Homo sapiens: one gene and its partners. The protein of the gene in region 3 purifies or fractionates together with the protein of the main gene of each other region. This does not show direct contact. Each region holds a gene or a part of one and is shown on either strand. Other genes may lie near its edges.

What was found. Proteins that work in one complex are often made in the same cells at the same time.
Region 1: the proteins of P2RX5 (region 3) and USP30 purify together in Homo sapiens (affinity purification with mass spectrometry; 2 studies listed by BioGRID and IntAct, with this or other methods). This does not show direct contact.
Region 2: the proteins of P2RX5 (region 3) and MSMO1 purify together in Homo sapiens (affinity purification with mass spectrometry; 2 studies listed by BioGRID and IntAct, with this or other methods). This does not show direct contact.

What each region holds. Positions count from the first base shown.
Region 1 is NC_000012.12:109,048,558-109,055,580, reverse strand, and holds the start of USP30 (ubiquitin carboxyl-terminal hydrolase 30), read right to left. Parts: upstream 3,006-7,023; 5' UTR 2,903-3,005; coding exon 2,820-2,902; intron 2,800-2,819; exon of another isoform or gene 1,544-2,799; coding exon of another isoform or gene 1,539-1,543; intron 1,076-1,538; exon of another isoform or gene 789-1,075; intron 1-788. UniProt on the Homo sapiens protein: Deubiquitinating enzyme tethered to the mitochondrial outer membrane that acts as a key inhibitor of mitophagy by counteracting the action of parkin (PRKN): hydrolyzes ubiquitin attached by parkin on target proteins, such as RHOT1/MIRO1 and TOMM20, thereby blocking parkin's ability to drive mitophagy.
Region 2 is NC_000004.12:165,323,514-165,330,673, reverse strand, and holds the start of MSMO1 (methylsterol monooxygenase 1), read right to left. Parts: upstream 3,006-7,160; 5' UTR 2,910-3,005; exon of another isoform or gene 2,728-2,909; intron 1-2,727. UniProt on the Homo sapiens protein: Catalyzes the three-step monooxygenation required for the demethylation of 4,4-dimethyl and 4alpha-methylsterols, which can be subsequently metabolized to cholesterol.
Region 3 is NC_000017.11:3,672,713-3,679,167, forward strand, and holds the end of P2RX5 (P2X purinoceptor 5), read right to left. Parts: intron 1,166-6,455; coding exon 1,156-1,165; 3' UTR 515-1,155; downstream 1-514.

The DNA of each region.
Region 1 (7,023 bases), on a different chromosome or scaffold from region 3:
TAAAAATACAAAAATTAGCTGGGTGTGGTGGCAGGTGCCTGTAATCCCAGCTACTCTGGAGGCCGAGGCAGAATGGCTTGAGTCCAAGAGGCGGAGGTTACAGTGAGCCCAGATTGCGCCACTGCACTCCAGCCTGGGTGACTGAGCGAGACTCTGCCTCAAAAAAAAAAAAAAAAAAAATATATATATATATATATATATGTATATATATGTGTGTGTGTATATATATATAAAATATTTATTGAATGACTGAATACTGGAGAAAATATACAGAAATGAATTTCTCTTTTAGAATATTAGACAGGGAAGGGGCACACATACAATGGTATAAAAGAGCTGAATATTTATAAAATTAAAGATTTCCTAACTTCAGGCTTGACTTGAACGCTGGTTATGCTTTTGCTACATATTAAGAAATTTCCCCAACAATTTAAAACATTGTTTTTATACAAAGTTATATATTTCTACAAAATAAGACAAACCATCTATGTGTATATAGCTATGTAATGTGTATCTGCATATATGTTACACATGCATACATACGTGTTTGTGTGTGTGTGTGTGTAATACATTATTATCCCAGTATTTGGATCATGTGAATATTGTTTTGATTTCAGTTCAGTAAACATTAACTTGGTGAAGAGTCACTGGTGGTAATATTGACCCTGTTTTATAATAATCAGCATTTCTTAGTATCATAGCTGATAGCTGAATTTCAGATAAATATTTGTTTTCCAAGACAGAGTCAACAGAATATGCACCAAACTTGGTTAAGAAAGTGGGATTACCTTATTCTGGTTCAATCCTGGCTTTGCTATTTCATTTGGCATCACTTCACCTTCTAAGCCTCAGTTTCCTCATCTGTACAATGGGGACAATCCATAAGACCTACCTCATAGGGCTGTTGTGAGGATTAAATAAGTGTGAATGCATACAGTACATAGTAAGAACTTAATAAATGTTAGCTGCTACAAATTAAGCATTACAATCTCAGGATCATTCATGAAAGCTATTCTTTCTTTTTTTCTTATTTTTATTTTTATTTTTTTTTGAGACAGTGTCTTGCTCTAGTTGCTCTAGTGCCCAGGCTGGAGTGCAGTGGTGCCATCTCAGCTCAACACAATCTTCACCTTCCGGGCTCAGGTGATCCTCCTGCCTCAGCCTCCCAAGTAGCTGGGACCACAGCTGCACACCACATGCCCAGGTAATTTTTAAATTTTTTTGTAGAGACAGGGTCTCACTACATTGCCCAGGCTGGTCTCGAACTCCTGAGCTCAAGAAATCCACCTGCCTCAGCCTTCCAAAGAGCTGGGATTACAGGTGTGAGCCACCATGCCCAGCTGGTGAAAGGTATTCTTGAAGTTTCTTAATACATCACTGTGCTTTTACACGATACGTGAGTTCACAAAAGTGCCTGGAAAGATTATAAAGGACTGTCATGGAAGTGCTAAGGTGCTTTACCAGTGCTTTAAAATCCCCTAATCAAACACTAATATTTAAGGGTACATACTCTCTGCCAGGCCCTGTGACAATCTTACCTCATTTTTAAAACAACCCCACAGATGCAGGTTCTACTATCACTTTCATTTTTATAGCAGAAGAAACTAAGAGCCCAACTTGGTCACAGTGAGTGAAGGAACATGGCTCTGAATCATGCCTGTCTGTCTCCCCAGGTCTGTGCTTAAAACCACGAAGTTCAAGATGGAAACTGAAGGGAAGAGTGTCAAGGGGATGGGAGAGAGGACTTGTCCATGACTTTGGCAGCATAAGGAAAAAATACCCAGGGACAAGTGGCGACTTTGGAAACTCCATTCCTCTGCAAAATGACATCACGAGGAGAGTGGTGGGGCCTGCGGATGAAAAGATCTGGCTTCTCCTCCCAACTCTGCTATGAGGTCAGCTATGGGGCCACACTTCCTATCTACGGAATGGGGGCACTGGACAGGATAAGTATCGAGGACTTTCAGCCCTGGGATAATAAGCTCTTTAAACCTGCTCCAGTTCCAGAGGAAGCCGACCTGAGCAACAGGTCTCAGTCATTTGGGGTCAGCAGTGGGGGAGGGGGTACTCAGTTCTGAAGCCTGGAGCCCTTGGGAGGGTGAATAAGAGGGAAATGGGGGCCCTGACAGGATTGGGGACCCAGGCAATCGAGGAGTCCTAACAAGAACGGAGGGCTTTAACAGGACCAAGCAACCTTAACAGGTTAAAGGGGCCCTGACCAATTTAGAGACCCTTGCAAAACAAGGGCCTTTACTCACACTAACAACATCAGGGACCCAGACAGAAGTGGCGATCCATATTAGACTAGAGGGCGGGCTAACAGGAATAGGGGGCGGTACTAACAAAACGCGGGGCTCGCAGGCCCGGGGCACTTATAGGACTAGAAGAACCGTGCCAAGGTTGGGGAACCCTGGCAGTCCAGAAACTGATATGATTGGGGGACCCAGAAGGACTGGGGGTATACTAGAAGGATTGAGGGGTCTTGGCAGGCCTAGGAGGCACTGAAAGGACTGAGGGCACTGACAGAATTAGGGGCCTTGACAAGACTGGAGTGCCCCGGGTGTCCTGGGAACAATGACAGGAGGGGGAGGGACTGACAGACCTGGGGAGTGCAGACAGAATTGGTGTTGCCGAAGGACTGGAGCCCGTCAGTCCTCCCACCTACGGGCCCAGGCCTCCAACCCTAAAGGACGCAGAACCTTCCAGAATGCCCGCGCGGGCCCTGGAGACCCCAACTAGGGCATGAAAAAGCCGTCACGGGCCCAAGCTGGGGACCCTGGTCCCGGCCTCTTCGGCAGCCCCGCCCCCCAAAATCTCACCTGACGGCCGCCCCGGTCCGCAGGAAGCGCTGGATGGCCCTGTCGGCCGCGGTCATCGCCGCCTCGGCCCGGGAGCTCAGCATTGCAGCCGCACCGGAGGCCTGAAACCGTCTCCTCCGCTACCGCCGCCGCCGCCGCCGGACCGAGGGATACGACGGTTCCCGAGACAGCGGAACCTGCGGCCGCAGTCCCAGCACCTCGGGGGAACGTAGACCGCAGGACAGCTCCCAGGGGGACCGGAAGTAGCTGCCCCCGGAGAGCAATAGCTGACGGACCACGTCCTTTCTTTCTTTTCCCTTAGCAACAGGCCCCGGCGTCGGTTGCTACGCTGGGCTCAGTTGCCTGGGGCTGCTTGGTTTTCAGATTTGCTTAGGCTCCATTCATAAATACAGATGGCACACTTCTAGGATGGACCCTGGGTCATGATTTGAATTTTTCGATGTGGGGAAGGGAGGCCAACAGCCGAAAGTCGGGTCAGGCCTCTGCTATAATTAGTTATTATTGTGGCCAGAGTGGAAATAGGTCGCAGAGGAAGGAACTTTAATGAGCATGAGGCCCATCTCTGACGATATCAGTAGAGAAATCAACGTCTTTAATAGCCAACAAACTTATTGTTTACTTGGGTGCCAGGTATAGAGCTAAGTATGTTACATTCATTATTTACATTTAATATTCACACCAACTCTAACATTACCCACATTTTACATCCCAGGGAACCCAGGAAATTTGAAGAAATAGTAAGTTTTTTGACGCAGCTTGTAAGTGGTGAAACAGAGATTGGCAGTTCGGTCTGTCTGTCTCCAGAATGGCACTCTCCAACAGAAATATACAGGAGCCACATAGGTAATTTTACATTTTCCAGTAGCCACATTAAAGTGAAAAGCAGGAGGTAGGCCAGACGCCGTGGCTCACGCCTGTAATCCCAGCACTTTGGGAGAACGAGGCTGGTGGATCACCTGAGGTCAAGAGTTCGAGACCAGCTTGGCCAACATGGTGAAACCCCATCTCTACTAAAAATACAAAAATTAGCCGGGCGTGGTGGCAGGCTCCTGTAATTCCAGCTACTCAGGAGGCTGAGGCAGGAGAATTGCTTGAACCGTGGTGGTGGAGGTTGCACTGAGCCAAGATCATGCCACTGCATTCCAGCCTGGGTGACAGAACCAGACTCCATCTCAAAAAAAAAAAAAAAGAGGTCAGGTGCGATGGCTCATACTTGTAATCCCAGCACTTTGGGAGGCCGGGGGGTGGGGGTGGGGGGCACGGATTGCTTGAGGTCAGGAGTTCGAGACCAGCATGGCCAATATGGTGAAACCCCGTCTCTACTAAAAAATACAAAAATCAGCCAGGTGTGGTGGCGCGTGCCTGTAATCCCAGCTACTCGGGAGGCTGAGGCGGGAGAATCGCTAGAACCTGGGAGGCGGAGGCTGCAGTGAGCTGAGATCACACCACTGCACTCCAGCCTGGGCAACAGAGAGAGATTCAGCATCAAAAAAAAAAAAAAAAAAAAAAAAAGCAAGAGGTAAAATTAATTTTAACCATATTTTTTCCTTGACCCAATATGTTCAAAATATTGGGGCAGGTGCAGTGGCTTATGCCTATAATCCCAGCACTTTGGGAGGCCAGGTGAGAGGATGGCTTCAGGCCCAGAGTCCAAGGCCACCTGGGCAACATAGCAAGAACCCATGGCTACCGAAAAACAAAGAAAAGAAAAACAAAATATGTCATTTCTATGTGAAAATTATTGATGAGATAATTTACATTCTTTTTTTTTTGAGATGGAGTCTTGCTCTGCCGCCCAGGCTGCAGTGCAATGGCACGATCTCGCCTCTCAGGTTCAAGCGATTATCCTGCCTCAGCCTCCTGAGTAGCTGGGATTACAGGTGCACACCACCACGCCCGGCTAATTTTTTTGTATTTTTAGTAGAGACGGGGTTTCACCATGTTGGTCAGGCTGCTTGAACTCCTGACCTCGTGATCCATCCGCCTCGGGCTCCCAAAGTGTTGGGATTACAGGTGTGAGCCACCGCGCCCGGCCCATTATTTTTTTGTTTTTTGGTACTAAGTACCTCTCAGTTTGGAGTACCCACTTTTCATGTGCTCAATAGCCCCAAGTGGCCAGCAGCTACCGTATTGGACAGCACAGTTTATAAAGCATTAGAGCCAGCAAGATTTTTCCCTCCCTTTCAATCGCTTTCTCCGACTCCAGACTGAGTAATTGCATTCATGCTGGGGGTGGTGTCGCATACCTGTAGCCCCAACTACAGAAACAAAACAAAAGAAATCAATGCATTAGATCAGTAGTTCTCAAAGTTTTTGTTCTCCGGATCTCTTTGTACGCTTAAAAAGGATTGAGGGATTTTGTTTATATCTAACTGTACTCTGTTAGAAATTAAAATTGAGAATTTTTGTTTCCTTAAAATTGAGGTATATAGGTATATCTTGTTTTTTTGTTGTTGTTGTTTGTTTTTGAGATGGAGGCTCGCTCTGTGGCCCAGGCTGGAGTGCAGTGGCGTGATCTCAGCTCACTGCAAGCTCCGCCTCCCGGGTTCAAGTGATTCTCCTGTCTCAGCCTCCCGAGTAGCTGGGACTACAGGCTCCCGCCACCACGCCCAGTTAATTTTTGTATTTTTAGTAGAGACAGGGTTTCACCATATTGGCCAGGCTGCTCTTGAACTCCTGACCTTGTGATCCACCCACCTTGGCCTCCCAAAGTTCTGGGATTACAGGTGTGAGCCACCGTGCCCCGCCCGGCATATCTTGTTTTATTGCACTTCACTTTATTGTGCTTCGAAGATACTGCATTTTTACAAGTTCAAGGTTTGTGGCTACCTGACTACAGCAAGTCTATTGGCACCATTTTCAACAGCATGTGCTCACTTCGTGTCTCTGTACCACATCCTGGTAATTCTTGTAATATTTCAAACTTTTTTTTTTCTTTTCTTTTTTGCAATAATGCCTCACTCTGTCATGCAGGCTGGAGTGCAGTGGCGCAATCTTGGCTCACTGCAACCTCCACCTCCTGGGGTTCAAGCGATTTTCGTGCCTCAGCCACCCAAATAGCTGGAATTACAGGCACGCGCCACCATGCCTGGCTAATTTTAGCGTTTTTAGTAGAGATGGGGTTCCACTGTGTTGGCCAGGCTGGTTTCGAACTCCTGACCTCAGGAGATATGCTTGCCCTGGCCTCCCAAAGTGCTGGGATTACAGGCGTGAGCCACCGTGCCTGGTCCCAAAGTTTTTCATTATTATTACACCTATTAAGGTGATCTGTGATCAGTGATCCTTAATGTTACTATTGTAATTGTTTTGGGGTGCCACAAACAGCATTCAGGTAAACCAGCCAACTTAATCGGTATTGTGTATGTTCCAAGTGCTCCACTGACTGGCTGTTCCCCCCTCTCTCTCACTCTTCTCAGGTCTCCCTAGCCTGTAAGACACAACAATATTGAATTTCAGTCCACGCCTCTAAATGTTCGAGGGATAGGAAGAGTCGCACATCTCTCACTTTAAATCAAAAGCTAGAAATGATTAAGCTCAGTGAGGAAGGTGTGTCAAAAGTCAGGATAGGCTGAAAGCAAGACTTCTTGCACCAAACATTTAGTCAAGTTGTGAATTCAAAGGAAAATTTCCTGAAGGAAATTAAAAGTGCTACTCCAGTGAGCAGAATGTAAACTAAAAATCCTAAGCCCCGCCAACTGACTGAATGGGCCCCCTCTTGGCCAAGGGGACCTTCAAGAAACCTTAAACACTGAGTTCCCAGCCATAATGAGATGAGAGGTCAGACATGCCTCCTTATACCCTCTTCCTTAGAAGTTTAGACACAACAGCTGACCAGCCTTAATGTTGAAACAGTGATCATAAGACAGACAGAATGGACTGTTTGTGGCAATAAGATACCAAATTATAAACAGGATCTAAGGTCATGCCAAGCAAGGATTGCGTTACACACCCCTGCACTTAAAGAATAAACTGTTTTACATCCGGTTTTTCTTTTTCTTTCTTTTTTTGTTTTTTTTTTTTTTGAGACAGAGTCTCACTCTGTTGCCCAGGCTGGAGTGCAGTAGGGCGATCTTGGCTCACTACAACCTCCACCTCCCAGGTTCAAGCCATTCTCCTGCCTTAGCCTCCTGAGTAGCTGGGACTTCAGGTGCGTGCCACCACGCCTGGCTAATTTTTGTATTTTTAGTAGAGATGGGGTTTCGCC
Region 2 (7,160 bases), on a different chromosome or scaffold from region 3:
AGCTACTTGCAATCTGGCTCCCCACCTGCACCAAAATGTCTTCAATCATCTTCTAAGTTGTAAAATAAGGCAACCATCCAATCTTAATTTTTCTCAAGGTGATTAGTAAATTTGACAATAATGAACCAAGACCACTTACTAGTCCTGTCCTGTGACCTTGGGCAAATTAGGTAACCTCTCTGTGATGCAGTTTTATCAGCAGCAAAAATTAAAACAGTAGGTCTTCCAATGAGTCCAAGAGACAATGCATATAAAGCGCTTAGTTAGCACAGGACCTGGCATGTAATAGCTACAAGAAACTAACAATTATTGGGCACTTTCTGTGCCAAGAACTGTGTTCAAAGCATGCTACCTGCTCTCTACATTTTCACTTTAATCCTTACCACACCTTCGTGAGGTAGGTATTATTTTATCACCATTTTATAGATAAAATAACTGAGGTTTAGAAAGATTAAGCAACTTGCCCAAAGTCTAATGCTTAATGTTAAGTTAATGCTTAACAAATGCTAAGTGGGGAAGCCCATGCACTCATCCATTATATTACACTATAATTATAAATAAAACCCATAATAAGTATTAGAGTACAAGGAGAATAATTCCTACAGTTTACCTAAGCTCTATGAAAAGGTATTCCACGAGTTGTCTTTATCTTCTTATTTCCTGTTTATATTCTAGCAACTGCAATCTGCATTCTATTGTCATCACTGCACTGAACTTACTCTTACTAAAATCACTAAGGAGGCTGGGTGTGGTGGCTTACGCTGGTAATCCCAGCACTTTGGGAGGCTGAGGTGGGCGGATCACAAGGTCAGGAGTTCCAGACCAGTCTGGCCAATATGGTGAAACATCTCCACCAAAAAAATACAAAAAAATTAGCCGGGTGTGGTGGCGTATGCCTGTAATTCCACCTACTGGGGAGGCTGAGGCAGGAGAATTGCTTGAACCCGGGAGGCTGAGGTTGCAGCGAGCAGAGATCACGACACTGCATTCCAGCCTGGGCGACAGAGTGAGACTCCGTCTCAAAAAAAAAAAAAAAAAAAAAAAAAAATCGCTATGGATCTCCAGCTGCCAAATCCAATAAACCTTTTTTTTTTTTTTTGGAGTTTATTTGACTAATCTGGAAGATTTGATACTTCTCTTCTTGAAATACCGCCTTTCCTTGGTTCTTGGAACTTAAATGCATTCACTCTGACAAGTATTGTGCATTCATTGTGCTAGCTGGTGCCCTTACCCCTGAGTTCATAAAACATAAAATTTAGTGAGGAATAACAACTAGTGTCCAAACCATCAAAAATTATGTGATAAGAACAATAAAGGGGGGAATACACAGTGCTATGAACTTCTAGAGAAAGGTGCTATCTAAACTGAGACCTAGAACAGGAGAAGGAGGTGACAAATTAAAAAATAGAGTGAGGGAGAGAGGGTCAAGGGAGGGGTTTTGCATAGAGAGAACAGCAACTCCAAAGACTCAACCAGGAGATTAGAAAAAATATGAGAATTGAAGCTGGAAAGTTTCCCAATAATGCCTTCCTTACTCCCTTCTAACGATTCCAGATTGTCTTGGGTGATCTTAACTATTTTCTGTTTTAAAAATATGCTGACATCCATCATCTCTATCTCTAGCCCTCTCCCCTAAACTCCAGGATCTAATTATCCAAGTTTACTGGTCATATCCAGTCAGAGAGTTCAGAGGCACATGAACTCACTCAACAGGTCCAAAGGTTCAGTATGTGCTCCTCACAACCCCCGCCCAAATACTAGGCCTCCTTTAATGCCTAATTCTCAGACATAACGTTTTAAGTCTCTCCCATTCTGCTGCCTTAAGTCTTCAAACTCTTACCCAATTTAGAAACACTTGGTTTAGTTAACATTCAGGAATTTACTTTTCACAAAGGAGCGAGGGAATGGATATACTGTTGCTAACCGAACAAGGAATTAAAGAGGAGAGGGGAAACAAGGTCTTGGAAAATTGAATTTCCTTTTCCTTTACTCATTCTTGGGCAACCTAAATGACTGGAAGCCTGTTCTGGAACAGGTTGACTAGATAAATTTAGTTATTTGTGGATTCTCAGAAACCTTGAAGTTTAGCTGTCAGCCAGTCTCTGTCCTTTGGCACTTTAACACGGATTTCACCAGCTCCTTCATTTTCTGGACTTGCCCTGCCTCCAAGCTTGCCCTTCCTAAACCTTATTTCTAAGATGCAATGCCACGATCTATATAAATTTAAACATCAGAGATAACCTCCTTAAAACACTCAAAGTTCAAGGGAGTGCTTGCCCTAAGCATAAAGATCAAGCCCCGCTGTGATTGATGCACACGAGGCCCTTCCAGACTTCTTCACTCTTCATTTCTTACATTCTCGCCATCCTACACTTCACATTTTTGCAGTATCTGATCACTCATGGTTGCTACTGCTTCATTCCTCTCTGCCCACGGAAATATCGTTCCCTTACAGGTGATGTCCTCCCATTCAACTCCTAGTCATCCTTCAGTAACCTCCTCTCGGACGCCCTTCCCAACCCCACTACTCCCAAAGCACACTACATCTTACCTCCTTCTAGTGGTTCCTGCTTTTGTATAACTTTCGCCAGCCTATCACCCTGTGCTGCAACTATCTTCTACGTCCTGTCTCCCGAAGACAACACATTTTAAAGGGCAAGAAACATGCCCTAGCCTAGTTCCATCACTTAAGAATTTCACTCCGTTTTCATCCTTTCTAGCACGTACCTTAGCCTAGGCCCACCTTCACTCCAGTCTCCTTCCGCCCCGTCTCGGGTACCACTGCCAGCGTCCCGCCCAGCGCGTGCATCCGCACCCAGAACCCGCTCCCCTCGATCTCACGGAGCACCGGGTGGGAGCCCGCCTGCTCCCCCTTCCTCGCTCATGAGCCACTCCTCCAACCCCCTCACCTGAACGGCCGCGAGATGACTGCCGGCCACCGACACCGAGGACTCGCCAGGTGTTCCAACCTCGGAACCTGCCTCGCCTGGCTTGGGGGTGGAGCCGGGTGGGCCAGGCGGCCCGTCCTGTCGTTATTGGCCTGCGAGAGCTCCCGCCCCGCCTTCTCGGCGCGGTGATTGGTCTGTGCAGTTGCCGACATCGTGTGACTCGCGCGAACGAGCTCCTGGCGGTCCCAGCCATTGGCTCCGCGGATGGAGTGAGGATAGTGAGACCTGCAGAGCCAGCCAATGGTCGGCACCGCGGAGCGCCCGGAGGCGGGGAAGCGTGAGAGCGCGCCACGGCGTGAGGGGGCGGGCACAGACGGATGGCCGCCTCGCCCTGCAGCGCGGAGTCGCCTTGGCAACTGCGGTCCCGGCAGATTCCCAGTGAGAGCCTGCGCTGTGCGGGGGAGAGTGTCGCGCCGGCCGCCGTCCCAGGACTTTTATTTCAAATGTGACCTGTGTAGCAACCGCAGTTCCCAAACCCGGGAAGAAGAGAGTATAGATGAGTCTTAAAATCTATGTTGACTGTTTTGTGTTTCCAGACACCCTTGCCTTCCTTTTTCTGGTCTACCATTTAGATTTAGATCTTTCGTCTCCCTTGTTTCCCCAGCCTACGTATCCTTTAATAAATTCCTGCATTTTGAAAACGGAGAATTTCAAATGCGATTATCGTCATTTTGCAGATGAGAAATAAAGGCTGGGAAAGATTTAAAAAGATTGAACATCAAGGGAGAGTTCGGCTCCCAGGACCTTGACCTCGCTACATGGGCAGAGAACGCCCAGGTGTTGTTGCAATTGTTGTGCTGGACGATGAGTGCCCGGGGGCGGGGGCGGGGGCGGGGGCTTGACGCAGGTCTTTGCAGCTCTAAAGCTCAGTTTACACCATCTCTCAACATTAAAATATTGTGTACTGGGGTTTAATAATAAAACTGTACAGATGTGATAATATACTAAAACTTTCACTTAACGGAAGAGGTGCCTTTAAAGAAAAAACCGCACAGGGGCATCATTTGGGCTAGTGAAGGCCCTTTTTCCTCCTTCTTTATTAAGGTATAATTGACAAAAATTGTGTTTACGGCGTACACATGTTTTGATTATGTGTATATTGTGTCAAATATATACAGCTTCTGAAAACAGAATACTATTGTTTCATTCCTCCATGCTTTTGCTCAAACTGGCCCTTCTGCCTGGAATAATCAGCCATCTCCATGCCGCCCCATCAATTCAGGTACTATCTCCTTGAGGAAGTTCCCTCTTGAAAAGTGTCTTTTTTAGATTCAGTGTGACCTGTACTTATTCGTCTATCCCTCATGTTTGGCACACACATTCTTTGTAAAGTATCATGACAGCGGTCACGTCAAATGAAAAGAAATGGGATCTGTCCCTTGGTTGTCAGAGTCAGCCCTGTCTTTAGGATGCCTTTACAGTGGTGTCTGAAACCATGCCTATATACTTTATGAAGTTAATCTGGGAAAAAGGGGTGGGGGGAACGAAATTAAACCAAGCTTGCAGCACACTGAGGATTAATAATTAGGTCAGCTTGCTGTCTGACCCCTTCCTCATAATTGTTTGCCTATTGCTTCAGAATCATGTAGACTCTGTTACAAGGTTATAGTTTCCCCTAACTGCTCTATAGACAACAACTTGAACATTATGAAACGTTAAGTTTGTGCTTTGAGATAACCTTTCAGGTCCTTCGTACTGATGAAACTACTGACTCAGCTGGTCTGACAAGGAGCTGACTCACCAAAGAATGCAGTTCCCACATCCTGATGGTTTCATTCCTCCTTACCCCAGCCAATCGAGGACCCTAATTTTCCAGCCCATTGCCCTCCAGGATCCCCTTAAAAGCCCCAGCACAGAACTCCTCAGAGAGATGAATTTGAGGGTTTCCTCCCATCTCCTCTCGGCACCCTGCCATCACTAAACTCTTTCTCTTCTGCAAACCCTGCTGTCTCAGTGTATACTGTGCAGTGGGCATATGAATCTGTTGGTCCTGTAGTGGATGCTGTGGCACACCACCCAGATCCCCCTCTTCAAGACCTAAGCAGGCATTCCTCCAGCTGCTGAGTACTGCCAAAGAGAAGCACCTCTCCCCACGGGTATACCCCCTTTCTAGGCAACAGCTAGTCAAGTAACTGGTTGAAACGGGTATAAAATCCCCTAAACCAATGTAGGGCTACTTTGCTTGGCCATCCCAGCTCCAGAGCTCCCCATCCTATTGGTTGTGTGATGACTGCACTGCCACCCAACTTTTCTCTCTGCCCAAACCTGCCATCCTCTATCAGGTGAGCATCAATAGCACACACTATCGGGCCACACTTACTAGGCTTGGCATTTTATTAGCAGTGGATAAGTTACTTCTCTGTCTTATCTGGTACTTCTGTGAAATAATAATACCTACACCTCGAAGAGTTATTTATGATGATTACATGAGATAACGTATGTAAAGCCCTTTGCACAGTCTCTGGCATACAAGATATGATCAGTAAATGTCAGCAATTATTTCTGATTTGGAATTCTACCACAGTATTACATTTTCTAAATCAGAGCAGGTGTAGGTGTATGGAGGGGTCAGATTATTTTAAACCTTAAAGGCTTAGAGCTGGAAAAAAATGCTGATGCAGCAGCTCAACTCACTTATTTCCCTACAATGAAGATTAACAGGGGGCTCAGGGAACAATAGCTGTAATTTATTGAGGGCCCGCTGGATTTCAAGCATATTAACATGCATCATTTCTTTCAAACGCAACAACCTTGTGACACAGACACTCCTATTGCCATTTTAAAAACAAAATAAGGATTAGAGGTTAAGTAATGTGTTGAAAGTCACAGCTAGCAATTGATAGAGGGAGCTGCAAACCCAGAACCCTTTTGTTTCTATGCCCATGGGCTTTCCAATATACCACATGGCTTTTTTCCTTAAAGCCAGGATTAGAACCCCAGAATCTTGACTCAAAATATAGTTCCATTCTCCAGCGTAGCCTCCTCTCCAAAATGAGACACTGGCAGCCATGGAAGTCAGTAGGAGGCAGTGTGCTTAAGACAAAACTAAACCAAGATGGTGTCAGCACACTGCTATGTAATTTCATGTGACCCTTTTACACCTCATAAAGTTAAGTCTCATAACGCAACAGCAGTTAGGATTACAAATACCTGGGTTCTTATGCTGTAAGGAACGATAAAGAGATAATAAATACCAGGAATCATACACCAGACTCCATAAGAAACAGGGAAAGAACTGATAGTCTTCTGACAGTAAATACACCTTCCGCCTTAACCACAGTCATCACTGCTTTCAGCCAAGGAGGCATAGATCCCAACAAAGCAGGCAGACGAGTTGCTTCACAACGCAGGTATGTGGATCCAGCCTTGAACTCTGCTCAAACGTGGGGCTGCTTCCTTGGCAGGATTTCTAAGACACCTCTCTGCCTTCTTATTTTTCATACAACAATGGAACAGGCTGAGAACACTTCCATATGCCTTTAAAAAAATTTCAAACTGGAAAGACAAAGGTTGGCATGGGGGAAGGAGGTATGTCTAAAGTCTCTGAAATCATAGCTATGAATCCAGCTACTGACAAACCTTGGCAATTATAGTATAGCTATTAAAGCTTCAAAGATTAAGAAAGTAAAGATAGAGGTATTTGACATGCTATGTAGTTAAGTCTTTGTTACTTTAATAGGCTGAGATTATATTTTAAGAAAAGCTTTAAGATTTTTCAGATAAATCTTTAATTGATAGATTCATATAGAACATTAGTGTTTGGAAGTGATCAGGACAGACAGAGACCTCATACATTTTTCTTGGTGCCTCTGTCAGAAACAGCTGACTACTCCAAGTTCATTAGACCTTCAATATGTTTGTTGACAATGATGTGCTGTAAGGCAGAAATTCATGTTTTCATCAACTGAGCATAGGCTTTTTCTGATTAAATTCATTTATAATGGAAAGTTCAACTAAGTATTAAATGTGGTTCCATGTTTAAATTTGAATCGAAATGTTATCATAGCAATCTTTCCTCTTGATTATCAACTGGTCTAGCAACAGCTCATGCCAACTTTTTTAATTCCTGAGGAATGGTCACAATATCCCATCACCTCCTCCTTCCCCCTCTTCCCTTCCTCTGCTGTGTCCAGCACCTCAGCTGCCTACCTGACTCCACTATTCCTATTTCCTCAATTCCTTTTATTTGGTATCAAAACCACAGTTTATTTC
Region 3 (6,455 bases):
GAATGAAAAGTACCAGTTTTATCAGTTCCTTCCTAGTCTATAATTTTAATAGTTGCTCATTTAAAGCATTTCCATAATTTGAATTTCTTTGCAAGATGAGGAATATATTGCTTACTAATTGTTTCTTGTGTCTGCCTCTTTTGATCTTGCCTTCTTACATTTTCCTTTAAAATACGGGTAAAAATGGGCCAGGTGCGGTGGCTGTTGCCTGTAATCCCAGTACTTTGGGAGGCTGAGGTGGGCGGATCACAAGGTCAGGAGTTCAAGACCAGCCTGACCAACATGGTGAAACCCCGTCTCTACTAAAAATACAAAAAAAATTAGCCGTGCATGGTGGTGCACGCCTGTAATCCCCGCTACTCAGGAGGCTGAGGCAGAAGAATCACTTGAGCCTGGGAGGCAGAAGCTGCAATGAGCCGAGGTCGTGCCACTGCACTCCAGCCTGGGCTACAGAGCGAGACTCCATCTCAAAAAAAAAGATGGGTAAACATGAAGAGAAAAAAATCAGGACACGTTTGAAATTGACACCATTTATTGTTTTATGACCAAATAAGAGTGTCAGAGAATACATATCTTGGGCAGGTCCCAGAAAGCGTCTGCCATCTCCCCCACTTTAATTCTGTGTACTGGCCTAAGGGCAAACAGCTGGCAGGAAGGTGGTGTCTTTAGGAGAGAGAGTACTTGGATCCACTGGAGAGTATGCTCTGAGGGAAGCTGCGGCACTTGCAGAGGGGAGTGGGCTGGAACCAAATGGAGCCCTTTTCCGGACACGCACAATGCTATTCCCAGTGAGGTAATCTAGGAACTCTACAGGGCACTGCGGTCCTTAGCTGAGGTGCTCAAGGACTCCGGAAGGAAGTCATGTTCCCCATTTACAACCCGTTCCCTAGTGCGGGAAGCCAGCCACGGAGAAAGGAAGAACTGACGGCAGGGGGTGGGGCAAAAAGACAGCCATGATGGGTCCGTCCTGATGACCCCAGCATCAGACGTGGAGGTCACTTTGCTCTGTGATGGCTGGTCCCTGTGATGTGGCATTGATAGCACCCAATGTACAAATTTCCCGTTGGGCAGCATCCTGGGATTCCCAAAGGCATGGGATCACTGGGTGCTAGACGGCTGGGTTTAGGACAGGGCCTGAACGTAAGCAGAGGCAATTCACGTGCTCCTGGAATATCAGAACAGAAAGGAGCTCTTGAGAGGCTGGCACTCTCATCTTCCCAGTGAGGCAACCAGTGCCCAGGGAGAAGGGCCTTCCCAAGTCTGAAAAGAGCTACAGTTCATGCTTCACTTCTCCCCATTTAAAAGCCAGTTTCCGGCCAGGCGCGGTGGCTCATGCCCATGCCTGTAATCGCAGCACTTTGGGAGGCCGAGGTGGGCGGATCACGAGGTCAGGAGATCGAGACCATCCTGATTAACACAGTGAAACCCCGTCTCTACTAAAAATACAAAAAATTAGCCGGGCGAGGCGAGCGCCTGTAGTCCCAGCTACTCGGGAGGCTCAGGCAGGGGAATGGCGTGAACCCGGGAGGCGGAGCTTGCAGTGAGCCGAGATCGCGCCACGGCACTCCCATCCAGCCTGGGCGATAAAGCGAGACTCCGTCTCAAAAAATTAAAAAAAAAAAATACAAAAAAAAAAGCCAGTTTCCATCAGAGTAATGAGCTCCCACTCTTGCACCAAGATTATGCAGAAAAATGGTGGGAGCTGGGGGCTGTGCAAAAAGCAAGGAAACTGGAAGAGTGTGACACTGTCTGGAAGCTGTCAGGCGATCCCTGGCTCTTCTGAGCACGGGGCCCCTGATGGGCAGTCAAGAGGTCACTGGAAGGCTTGGCCGGCCTTGAAGAAACAATGAGGTTAAATCCTCTAAGGAAGCAAAGTCTAAAGGGGCAACCTTGCAGCTAAAGACCGTCAACTTCATTAAACAAAAGCCTCACCAAACCTGGCTCCTGTCTGCCGCCTTCACCCAGGTTCTCCGTTGCTCCTTCCCATATCAAAGCGTCTCTTCACACCTGTGCTTCTCTTACCTGGAATGCTTCCCCCTCACCTAGTTAGGCTGCTATAACCTTTCAGATTTCAACTCATAGGTCACTTCCTTGGGGAAACCTTCTCTGGCTACTACTCGCTGACCTCTCCGACACCCCATTCCGTCTGTGATGACGGGTGTGATCATTTGGTAAGGGTTCAATGCCCCATTAGACTGGAAACCCTCGGGGGCAGGGATCGTGTCTGTGTTGCTCATCTCTGTCTCAGCAGCATCTGGTCCAACACCTGACATGTCACAGGGACTCCATAAATATTTCCTGGCTGAAGGAATGACTAACTGTAGGAAGACATTTTCCTTTTTCTAGAGACGGAGTCTCGCTCCGTCGCCCAGGCTGGAGTGCAGTGGCACGATCTTGGATCACTGCAACCTCCGTCTCCCGGGTTCAAGCAATTCTCCTGCCTCAGCCTCCTGAGTAGCTGGGACTACAAGTGCACGCCGCCACGCCCAGCTATTTTTTTGTATTTTAGTAGAGACAGGGTTTCACCATGTTGCCCAGGCTGTTCTCAAACTCCTGAACTCAGGCAATCTGCCCGCCTCGGCCTCCCAAAGTGCTAGGATTACAGGCGTGAGCCACCGTGCCCGGCTAGGAAGACATTTTTGTTGCAATATGAAACAAATAGTATGACTATCCTCAGGTTCTGTGGCTTCTGCCAGCCATTTCGAAGTCTGGTTAAAATCAGCAGCCATGACCCCTGCCTTTTTTGCTTCCTCCCAAACCTAAAAGTCACCAAGTTATAAAAATGCAAGGCTTTGCGTCAGTGAAGAAGTGACACACCTAAGTGGATCACCTGGATCTTCACTTTCTTTTTTTTTTTTTGAGACTGAGTCTCACTGTCGCCCAGGCCAGAGTGCAGTGGTATGATCTCAGCTCACTGCAACCTCTGCCTCCCAGGTTCAAGCGATTCTCCTGCCTCCGCCTCCCGAGTAGCTGGGACTACAGGCATGTGGACACCATGCCCGGCTAATTTTTGTATTTTTAGTAGAGATGGGGTTTTGCCATATTGGCCAGGCTGGTCTCGAACTCCTGACCTCGTGATCCACCCGCCTCGGCCTCCCAAAGTGCTGGGATTACAGGTGTGAGCCACTGCGCCCAGCCTGGATCTTTACTTTCTAATCAGAGAGCAGTATAGGCTTGTTGCAGGTTCCCTTCCCAGAAAACCCAAAGCGAGGAAGTTGCTTTGCTCTAGGAGGGTTCCTGTTCTGGAGACCATGTCCCTGGGCCCCTGACATCCCTCTCCAAAGCCTCAGTGGAGGGATGCTCTCACCACCCCCGCCTTTCTGTGTGCAGAGAGAACCCCTCCAAAGAGGATGCTTCCAGGGAGCCGCCCAGACAGCACTGGGACTGGTTGAGTGAGGGCGGCGCTGGAGCACTTTTCTGCCAGGTGGCTCGGGCAATGGCGAGGGCTGAGCTCCAGGTTTCTCACCTTGGGTTTACGGGGAGACAACTCACATACAACGGGGTAGGAGAAGAGAGCTAGTCAGCTCCCAAGCCCAACATCGAAACGTACTTCATGTCCATTTTTGACAGGGGAGACTGGGTCTTAAGCGCCAGCGTCAGGAGAAGTTCATTACCTGAGTGAATGTGTAAGAAACCACACGAGTTTTCGGCAAAATCAGGGAGCCTCCTGCATTAGTAACACTGGCTGCCTCTGGGGAACCGGGAGGACGGAGGTTGCTTTTCACTGACTATCCTTTGCACCTTCTAAACTTTGAATCATGTAAGTATTACCCAGTCAAAATATTGTAACTTAAATCAGCTGAGCATACTGCTGCTTTCAGGGTGGGGGAGGAAGCCTCTTGGTCTCTAGGCAGCATGCGTGTAAGTCTGACCTAGAAATTGGCTCCATCCACCAAAGCTGGCCTTTTTCCCCTGAGAACCAGGGCTTCTTAAATGTCACTGTGCACACAGATCACCTTGGAATCTTGTTGAAACACAGGTTCTGATTTGGGTGGGGGGCGGGGGAGCTGGGACCTGCATTTCTAGCAGGCTCCGGTCCCTGGACCCCACTTTAAATAGCAAGGCTTGGCCGGGTTTGGTGGCTCACGCATGTAATCCCAGCACTTTGGGAGGCCAAGGCTGGCGGATCACCTGAAGTCAGGAGTTGGAGACCAGCCTGGCCAACATGGTGAAACCCCATCTCTGCTAAAACTACAAAAATTAGCCGGGCATGGTGGTGGGCACCTGTAATCCCAGCTACTTAGGAGGCTGAGACAGGAGAATCGATTGAACCTGGGAGGCGGAGGTTCCAGTAAGCCAAGATCACGCCACTGCACTCCAGCCTGGGTGACAGAGCGAGACTCTATTTCAAAAAAATAAATAAATAAAAAGCAAGGCCCTACAGCGATGGAGGCAGAGAGCAGCTGAGGGTGCGGTAGGTGGGTGTGGCCGTGGCATAAGACAGGTGGGGACGGAGGGAGGGGAATGAGGGCCTCCCTAACTCAGCCCGTTTACACCTGCTGAGTGGCGCCATCCTTGATCTCATTAGCACTTCAGGCCCAGCCTCTGAGGAGGGGTGGGGAGGGCAGGAGCTCGGCAGGGTCAAGGCGACTGTATCTCCCATCTGGGCAGGTCCATATTCCCCGGGCGTCCCGAGGCTGGTGGAGTCAGATGGAGCAGAGGCCTCTTGCCTCCCCTTCCCCATCTTACCTAGACTCCCCAGGAGCTGGCTTCCCCACTAAGAGCCAGCTGCCTCCTGACTGCTCCAGTCCTTTCCTGGTTGCCTCCATGGCCACCTTTAAATTTTATCCTTGGGGCAAGCCCAAATGTCCCCTTGGGTGTTGTCCAAGAGCTTTCTCTGAGCAACCATCATTCTCGGCAGGGATTTCGGAAACCCTGCTAGAGGCTAGAGGAAGGCCAGCTGGAGTGGCTGGGCCTGGCTGTGATGTCTCTGTTGGCTTTGGAGGAATTACACGCGGGCCCCTCTCCCTGAGGTTAGGTCAGCATCTCATTTAAGCACCTCTTGGTGGGCCCAGCACACAGCATGCGTCAATACATGTTTACAGCTCATATGAATGAGTGAAGGTGCAGCCAGGTTGAGGGAAAATCCAAACACTCCACTTCCGCTCAGCACCCTGGCCTGTCCCTTTCCCTGGACACCTGCTCCAGGGACTCCTCTTCTAGGTCCGAGCCCCTCTGACCATTGGGAGGCTCCCCTCCTCACTCAGCAAAAAGCTTGCAGCAAGATCCCAAAGTTCAGGAGAGATGGCTGTGCCTGGAAGCCCCTGTCTCATGCAGGCACAGACTCCTCTACCCAGTTCAGAGCTGCGGGTTGTTCTGGCCCCAAAGTTTTCAGCGACACTGCTGGTAGCCAGCAGCCCTGGCTACATCTCCACTGTCTGCAGCTGCTCCAAATTCACCTGTGCATTCTGCAAATGGCCAGACCTGTGTGTGGGCGGGAGGGGGCGCACAGGGCAGAGAGGACTGTCGGGAGCCGGTGGGTGGGCCAGCCTCACCAGAGGCAGCAACGCTCCTGGCAGCACTGCAGGCAGGCAGAGCATTCAGAGAGAGCACAGCCTGCCAGGGTTCCTGCGGAAGCCCAGCACGCATAGATGCTCAGGCAGAAGCCTCTGGAGTTGCCCCGGCAAGGAGTAGCAGCAATTGCGGTGGCAGCTGGAGCGTGGGCCTGTGAGTCCACAGCCTCCCACAAGCCTCAGCGAGGCTCAGCCAAGACAAGCCAGGCCGTCGGGCTTCCCGCTTGCTCAGAATGGGAGCTCAAGTGAGCACCCAGGAAGTAAGAGTCAGCTCAGGGAGCACAGGAGGGCTGCCAGGCTCTGGGTCTACCCCATACGGACCCCTAGCCTCCAGCCTCCTTGCCCCACTGCTGCAGCCCCTGCCTCTCTCTCTCCTCACTCTTCTCCAGCCCAGTCTATTTCTTGCTCCTTCCCTGCCCAGGCCCAGCTCCCAGCTGAACGCTGCCAATTCCTGAGTCAGCAAGGAATGAAAGCTGGGCCAGGAGAAAGGCCACCAAGGTCAGTGAGTACCTGGGGTGTGGTTTGCAAGAGAGTCACAGAACCCCAGTCTGACAGCAGGAGGTGTCCAGCCCCCACTGGGAGGGGAAAAAAGGGAAAACAAGGCACAGAAAGGGCCAGGCACCTGCTCACCGCACAGGTACTCTGCAAGGCAGACGCAGAGCAGGCCCGAGACAGGTCCCCCACCCAGCCAGACGCCCTCCCCACGCAGGCTGAGCCTCGTCTGCAGAGAAGCCAGCGCCCCCAGGAATCGCGGCCCAAGGACCCCCCTGGCAGCACGGCCAGCACCCTCCTGAGGCCGGGGCAGCCCCAGAATCGCACACAGAAGAGGGGCTGAGGGGGGGTCATCTGAGCACAGAGACGTTCGGCAAAGGCAGAGTAACTCAGGAGAACCTCATCCTACAGACACTGCCGGGATTCAAATCTCAGCGCTGCCATTCACCG